2 linked regions of the Homo sapiens genome follow. Changing the gene in region 1 together with any one later gene gives a genetic interaction. Each region holds a gene or a part of one and is shown on either strand. Other genes may lie near its edges.

Evidence for each region. Genes that interact genetically often act in the same process or in processes that back each other up.
Region 2: changes in RAB5C (region 1) and FUT8 together harm fitness more than expected from each alone (negative genetic interaction), as found in Homo sapiens cells (one large-scale study listed by BioGRID).

The regions. Positions count from the first base shown.
Region 1 is NC_000017.11:42,127,680-42,131,088, forward strand, and holds part of RAB5C (ras-related protein Rab-5C), read right to left. Parts: intron 2,912-3,409; coding exon of another isoform or gene 2,824-2,911; coding exon 2,658-2,823; intron 1,122-2,657; coding exon 970-1,121; intron 705-969; coding exon 582-704; intron 1-581. UniProt on the Homo sapiens protein: The small GTPases Rab are key regulators of intracellular membrane trafficking, from the formation of transport vesicles to their fusion with membranes.
Region 2 is NC_000014.9:65,415,675-65,419,328, reverse strand, and holds part of FUT8 (alpha-(1,6)-fucosyltransferase), read right to left. Parts: intron 1-3,654. UniProt on the Homo sapiens protein: Catalyzes the addition of fucose in alpha 1-6 linkage to the first GlcNAc residue, next to the peptide chains in N-glycans.

The DNA of each region.
Region 1 (3,409 bases):
CCACCATGCCCAGCTAACTTTTGTATTTTTTTAGACATGGGGTTTCGCCACATTGCCCATGCTGGTCTCGAACTCCTAAGCTCAAGTGATCTCCCGCCTCAGCCTGCAGAGTATTGGGATTACAGGTGTGTGCCACCACACCTGGCTGTTTTTTTTTTTTTTTTAAAGAGATGGGGCCTCACTCTTGCTCAGGCTGGAGTGCAGTGTTGCAATCACTGCAATCTTAAACTCCTGGGCTCAAACAATCCTCGTGCCTCAGCCTCCTGAGCAGCTGAGACTACAGGTGCGTGCCACCAAGCCCAGCTAATTTTTAAATCTTTTGCAGAGACAGAGTCTTACTGTGTCGCCTAGGCTGGTCTCGAACTCCTGGCCTCAAGTGATCCTCCCACTCCAGCCTCCCAAGGCACTGGGATTACAGACAGGAGCCATGTTAGGCCCATGCCTGAGGCACGAGAGGACAGCAGATGGAAGCTTCCCTGTTGCCTCCTAGCATGGCCCTTCCCAAAGCCCCTGAGCATCCCAGGCGAGGCCGGGGGGAGCTGCTTACTCCACTCCTTCCCCCAAGTCTGTCATCTCCCCACCTGGAATTCCACGGCTCTCTTGCTGGCCAGGTCTGCCTTGTTACCCGCGAGTGCAATGACGATGTTGGGGCTGGCCTGCCTCTGTAGCTCCTTCACCCAGTTCTTGGCCCGTGCAAATGTATCCTGAGGAGACAGGGACAGAATGTCGAAGGGACAGAGAAGGCATTCTGCCCAGGGCCACCCATTAGAGACTCTCAAGCTGGCACAGCCAAATTATCTAAGACATTGCCACCTAAAGATTCTGATGCAATGTCCCCAAACAGGAAATCTGCCCACCCCCCACCCAGGAACAGAGGGTTAAGCGGCCTGAAATCAGGGCTCTGATAACCCAATCCCTGGGACTTTGAGAAGATGAAGGGCAAAGGAAGAAGCAAGGGGAAATCTTTACTGTGTTGGTGATGTCATAGACCACGATGGCAGCCTGGGCCCCCCGATAGTACATGGGGGCCAGGCTGTGATACCGCTCCTGTCCAGCTGTGTCCCAGATCTCAAACTTGACTGTTGTGTCATCCAGGCAGACAGTCTGTGTGAGGAAGGCCGCTGTAAGAGAGAAGGAGCGTCCATGGGCAAGAGCGAGTTGGAATCCACCCCACACAATCCCACTGTTGCTTCTAGGCTCTGGCACTCAGAAGCCCACCACTGAGATGGGCACAGAGAACCCTCAAGCCAGGAGCCAAAGCAGGCCTGAGTGGGGGGTGGAGTTTGGATTTTTATGTATGTGTCTGGGGGACGGGGTCTGCACAGGCTTTGCAGACCCAGCCCAGGCAACGGCAGGAGAAGGGACTCCTGCATGCACTGAGCCATCTCAGGACCACTCTCTGAAGAGCAACACAGCAGGGGCAAGAGAGGGAAAGCCTAGGGGAAGCCTACTCCAAGCACAGAAGGGTGAGCGCCCTCAGACCTCCTCCTCCGCCACTCAGAGAACAGACCAGCAGCTAGGGACCGCTCCACCCCTCAGTTTGCTCCAGCCCAGGGGTGTCACTGACCTTGGGTTTCCTAAGGACATTCTCACACACTTAGCTATGCTGGGGAAGTACACACTGTTCCACCACCAGGCTGAGGCTGGGTGGCCGGCTTCCCAACCACCCCTACCACCTCCAGGCACTCCAGCTAGCCACCGCCCCTAGCTCTGACCCAGACCTGTTCCTGTATGGCCACCCTGTGACCTGACCTTCAGTCACTAAGAGGTGACTCCTTAGGGGAATGCAGGGTGCCTGTACACATGCTTCAAAGGAGGAGTCCAGAGCTGGGACAGACAGCAAAAGGCCCCTTTGCCCCTGGACCCAGCAGAGAACCCAGGACAGCCATGTGTAGAAGGCTGCTTTCCTGGTCTGCCCTCCCCCAGCTCACTGAGGGACATGGGGCACTGCCTCACTTCCCCTCTCCAGCTCCTGACCCAAATGCTGAGGAGGCAGCAGGGAGACTGCTGACATGGCCCATTTTGTTTCCAGCTGCCTAGAAACCTCCTACCAAGAGAGTAGAGAAAGGATGACTCAAGGCCAAGGCCAGCGTTGGCCCCTGCCTCTTGATGTGTGTGTTAGCCACGGAGGCAAGAGGCCGAGGCCAGACCCTCACTCACATCCTAAATGCTGACCACTGGAAAATCAACAACAGGCTGTGAGCTCCAGAAAGGGTAAAGTCAGCTTCAGAAACACCCACCTATCACCCAGCTCCGACTCACCAGGCTGTTCCTTCTTCTGGAAGTGGGAAAGGCCAGGGCACATGGACCACCCATTATAGTAAGAAGGGGCCTCAAAGATCCAGAGTCAGCTCTCCCTCCATGAGGCCAGGGCAGTGAAAGGGCCTCAGCCAAGGCCACACAGATCAAGAAGGGGCAGAAACAGGATGGGAAGCTAGCTTTCCACTCCCAGCAAATGCTTACTAGCGATGCTTGAGGGGACTCTGGCATGGAGACCAGTTGCTGGGCTCAATTCCAGGGCCCAGGTGAGGAAGTGGGGCTGCCACCACAGACGCATTTAGTCCCTAATGCAGGCAGGCAGCTTCCCATCTCCTCAAGGTCAAAGCATTTCTTTGGCAACCTTCAGGCCCCTCCCCGACTCCCTCATGCCCACTCACCTCCAATTGTGCTCTCCTGGTACTCGTGAAACTGTCCCTTGACAAAGCGGAGGACGAGGCTGGATTTGCCTACCGCAGACTCCCCCAGCAGAACCAGCTTAAATTGACAGATCTTGTTCCCAGCAGCTGGTCCATTGGGTCGTGCTGCGCCTCCCCGACCCGCCATTGCCCGTCCAGCTGTAGTGGTCCAGAGAGCGTGCGGGTGGGGACTGGTGCTATGCAAAGAGGCACTTAGTGGGGAGGGGGACCTCCAACTGTAAGGGAGAAATGAGAAGTACTGAGTTAGTTCAGAGGCCGTCACCCGCTGTGTCCTTCTTAAATTACAGATCTTTCCCTCTGGCCTCACTGAAGACCTAGCTGACTGCTTCCCCTCACCTCACCTCCCTGCCCTCCCCACTAGAGGTCAGGAGGCCCCACTGGGCTATACTAGATGTCTACCGGCTCTACCACCATCTGAGCTGTAAAGAGGAGAATGGTCTCCCAACTTCAGGCTCATGGTTCTGAGCAAACACATTGACTTCTGGATCCCAAATATGTACATTCACCTACAAATAAACACACACAGGCGATGAATGAATGTGTGACAGCCTGGTGACAGTTAAGTCAACAGGCTTTTGGGGCAAAATTAAAACAAAACAAAACAAAACAAAAGCTCAGGAAGACACTAGGATTTAGATCAATAATGAAGTTCCAGTCTGGTAGCCAGGACCACAGTGGTGAGGCAGACAGGGGCCCAAGAGGTCCTGGTAGAA
Region 2 (3,654 bases), on another chromosome or scaffold:
TACATTACAGTAATGAGGCACATGAAGGTTAGAATTTGTTTTTGTTTTTTTGTTTTGTTTTGTTTTTTGAGACAGAGTTTCACTCTTGTTGTCCAGGCTGGAGTGCAATGGCAAGATCTCGGCTCACTGCAACCTCCGCCTCCTGGGTTCAAGTGATTCTCCTGCCTCAGCCTCCCGGGTTCAAGTGATTCTCCTGCCTCAGCCTCCCAAGTAGCTACGATTACAGGCATGTGCCACCATGCCCGACTAATTTTGTATTTTTAGTAAAGATGAGGTTTCTCCATGTTGGTCAGGCTGGTCTCCAACTCCTGACCTCAGGTGATCCACCTGCCTCGGCCTCCCAAAGTGCTGGGATTACAGGCATGAGCCACCGCGCCCGGCCTATAAAATCATTTTTAATAAATAATATTAAATGCTATACAAATGAAGTTCTTCTAGTCTCTTGCCTACCACCTCAAAAGGAAATGATATCATTATAATAAACCTATTATAACATAAAAGCTAATGTTTTACCTGGAAATGTTCTATGAACTCTAAGGAAAAAAGTATACTGTAAAGATGGTCAATTCCCGCATTTCTTACCATTGCTAGAAGAGGATGACAAACAAGGAGAAGTAAGTAGAGGGAAAGAGAAAAACTGAATAAATCTCCTTCATCTCCAAATAAGGCAAGCTCATCAACCAGTATGCTCCTCTCTCTATCTCCCTCTCTTCACTGACTGCCCCAAGGTCCCAGACAATACAGAATCTATAAATTATATCTGTCCACTTTACCACTAATTAAGATATTACTATCAATTGTATTAATTGTAAAAATGCTTAGATTAGCTTATGGAATGTTGGCTTAAGTCATTAAATAACATTACAATGCTTTTATTATAGTTTTGATGGTTTGTAAATATTGTTTATACTCTAACCAAATTTAATCTGGTTCTAGATATTATTAGAATTTGATATCTCATTTAAGGGATATTATAGAAAAATCAGTCACAACATTGATAAAAACTTAAAACTCATTCATTGTCCATTGAAAGTCTTGATCAAATAAGACTTAGACAGATACACAGGTTCATTTTAGTTATACGTTAAAGGTAATTAAGAGGACTCTCCCATTTTCATTTTACTTTTGTTCAAGTTTACAATCAGAAAGTTATAGCATTTATGCACTTTCAAGTTTATATCATGAAGTTTATTCATTAGAAAAACTAATTCTAACCGTCTTCATGTGCCTCATTGCTACATGATATAAACTCATTACTCAGGTTCTAAAATAAACATTAGCTTAATTTTCCATTTTCATCTAAGATTATTATCAATGTTTTATTATTTTATAATGTGAACTTTATACTGACCAGTCATCAAGGCTGTGACAAGATCTTTCAAGTTCGTTTTCATATTTATTCAGTTTATGGAAAAATAAATTTTAAAAACCCAAGTTATAAAATACAACAAATACAGTGAGCATTTCGTAGTGATCTTTAAAAGTTTTTCTTTTATTCCAGTGCTTCGAGGAAGAAGTTATAGTATAACTATACAATCACTATAGAAGAAAAGGCAGAATAGCAAAGGCAAATTTGAACCACATTAACACTACCCTTATATTGGTATAATTTGTTAATTAAAAGAAGATTTATAAATTCAAAACGTATTTCTCCTTCACATTGTCATTTTCTGACCAAAAAAAAGACTACCACAAAGAGGTATTTTTTTAAAGTAGATGGGTAAGAAAATTTAAATGAAATTAGCCCTATAACTCTGCTTTCAGTAAGAGTACAAAAGTAACCCTTATATTGACAAATACGGCATAATTCCATAGGTCCCATTTGCTCTTCCTCCGTTAAAAGGAAAATGTGTAGTATCATATAAAGTTTATATGGGTTTTATGTTCAGAATATTGTAGAGATTAAGAAAAACCTTTGCCTGGTGGGAGGTAAGATTAACTTTATTGGTTTGATTTCCCATTATTCCAAATGGAAGACTGTTGGATGATGGGGGGTAGCTGGGGAAAGGAAAAAAATGCCAGGAGATTAGAATGTTGAAAGAAAGAGAAGTTGAGATTTGAAACTAATCCATTTTTTAAAAATCTTACAACCAAGCATGGTAGCTCACGCCTGTGGGAGGCCAAGGTGGGATGATCACTTGAGGTCAGGAGTTCAAGACCAGCCTGGGCAACATGGCAAGACCCTGTCTCTTTTAAACTTAGAAACAAACAAACAAACAAAAATCTTTTTAATAAAATAAAGGAGCCGGGTACAGTGACTCACGCCTGTAATCCCAGCATTTTAGGAGGCCAAGGTGTGAGGACCACTTGACCCCAGGAGTTCAAGACAAACCTGGGCAACATACCAAGGTCTCATCTCTACAAATATTAAAAAATAATTAGCCACGCATGGTGGCATGCACCCATAATCCCAGATACTCCAGAGGCTAAGGCGGGAGAATGGCTTGAACCAGGGAGTTCAAGGCTGCAGTGAGCCGTGATCACGCCACTACTGCACTCCAACCTGGGCAACATAGAGAGACAACCCCCAACCCCAATCTCAAAAAAAAAAAAAAAAAAATTAAAGAAAATAAAATGTTAAATCTACACATCCCCATATAATATTCTTCTGTTGGAGATTTTTTTACAGGTTCTTTAAAAATCAGTCGTAAATATCTTTTACTTTTAAATATGTTTAATTGTTTCACTATAACAAGCTGCAATGTAAAAACAATTCAAACTCCAAGAAAGAAACTCCATACTATACGGTAGTGAAATATGAGCCAGAGAATCAATAAGAGGATGCTACACTACTGTTGAAGACCAGAAGTTGATATCTCCTTTGAAAAGTATCAACAGAAGCAGCATTGATGCAGGGTACAAAAGTACTATAATAAAGCTGGCTGTGGTAGCACATGCCTATAGTCCCAGCTACTCAAGAGACTGAGGTAGGAGGATTGCTTGAGCCCAGGAGTTCAAGGCCAACCTGGACAAAACAGCAAGATCACATCTCTTTGGGGGAAAAAAAAAAAAAGGTACCATAATAGTAATACTTTTAGTTTCAGAGTTGTTTAAAAATCTTAATTTTATGTTTAGTAAAGTAACTTATTCAAGTTTTTTTAAATATTTACTCTTATGATTGTAAAACTTTCTTTTATATTTATCAATTTGCTATAATATGAAATGATGTATCCACCATTTAACTAAATCAAGAGATTTATTAAATGCAGTTTATCATAAATCAAAAATAACCATTAATGAAATGGAAGAATCTATTTACTTTATCAGCATTGAGATTCTATTTACATAATGAAGAGCTATGGATAATAAACAGCCCAAACACTATCTGCAAAAAAACCAATATTCCAATGATTTTAATATACATATAACTATCAGTTTCTAGGCTTGGATTTAAAGAATATGTGAATGGAAAGAAGTAAATTAACATACTAATTTATTACAGCTTAGAAACCTAAATGAAATGCCACAGGCCACAAAACAACTGCTTCGTATTCAAAGGCACACATTCAATTTGGTAGATCAGCTGGACGCACTGCATTATACTGCAGGAGATAAGGGTTAAGTGACCTGGGGATATTGTTCTCCAGATGTCTAAAAGGTCCATTTTTTTATTGGAATTATCTCTACTTTAAAAAAAAAAAAAAAAGGAATTAT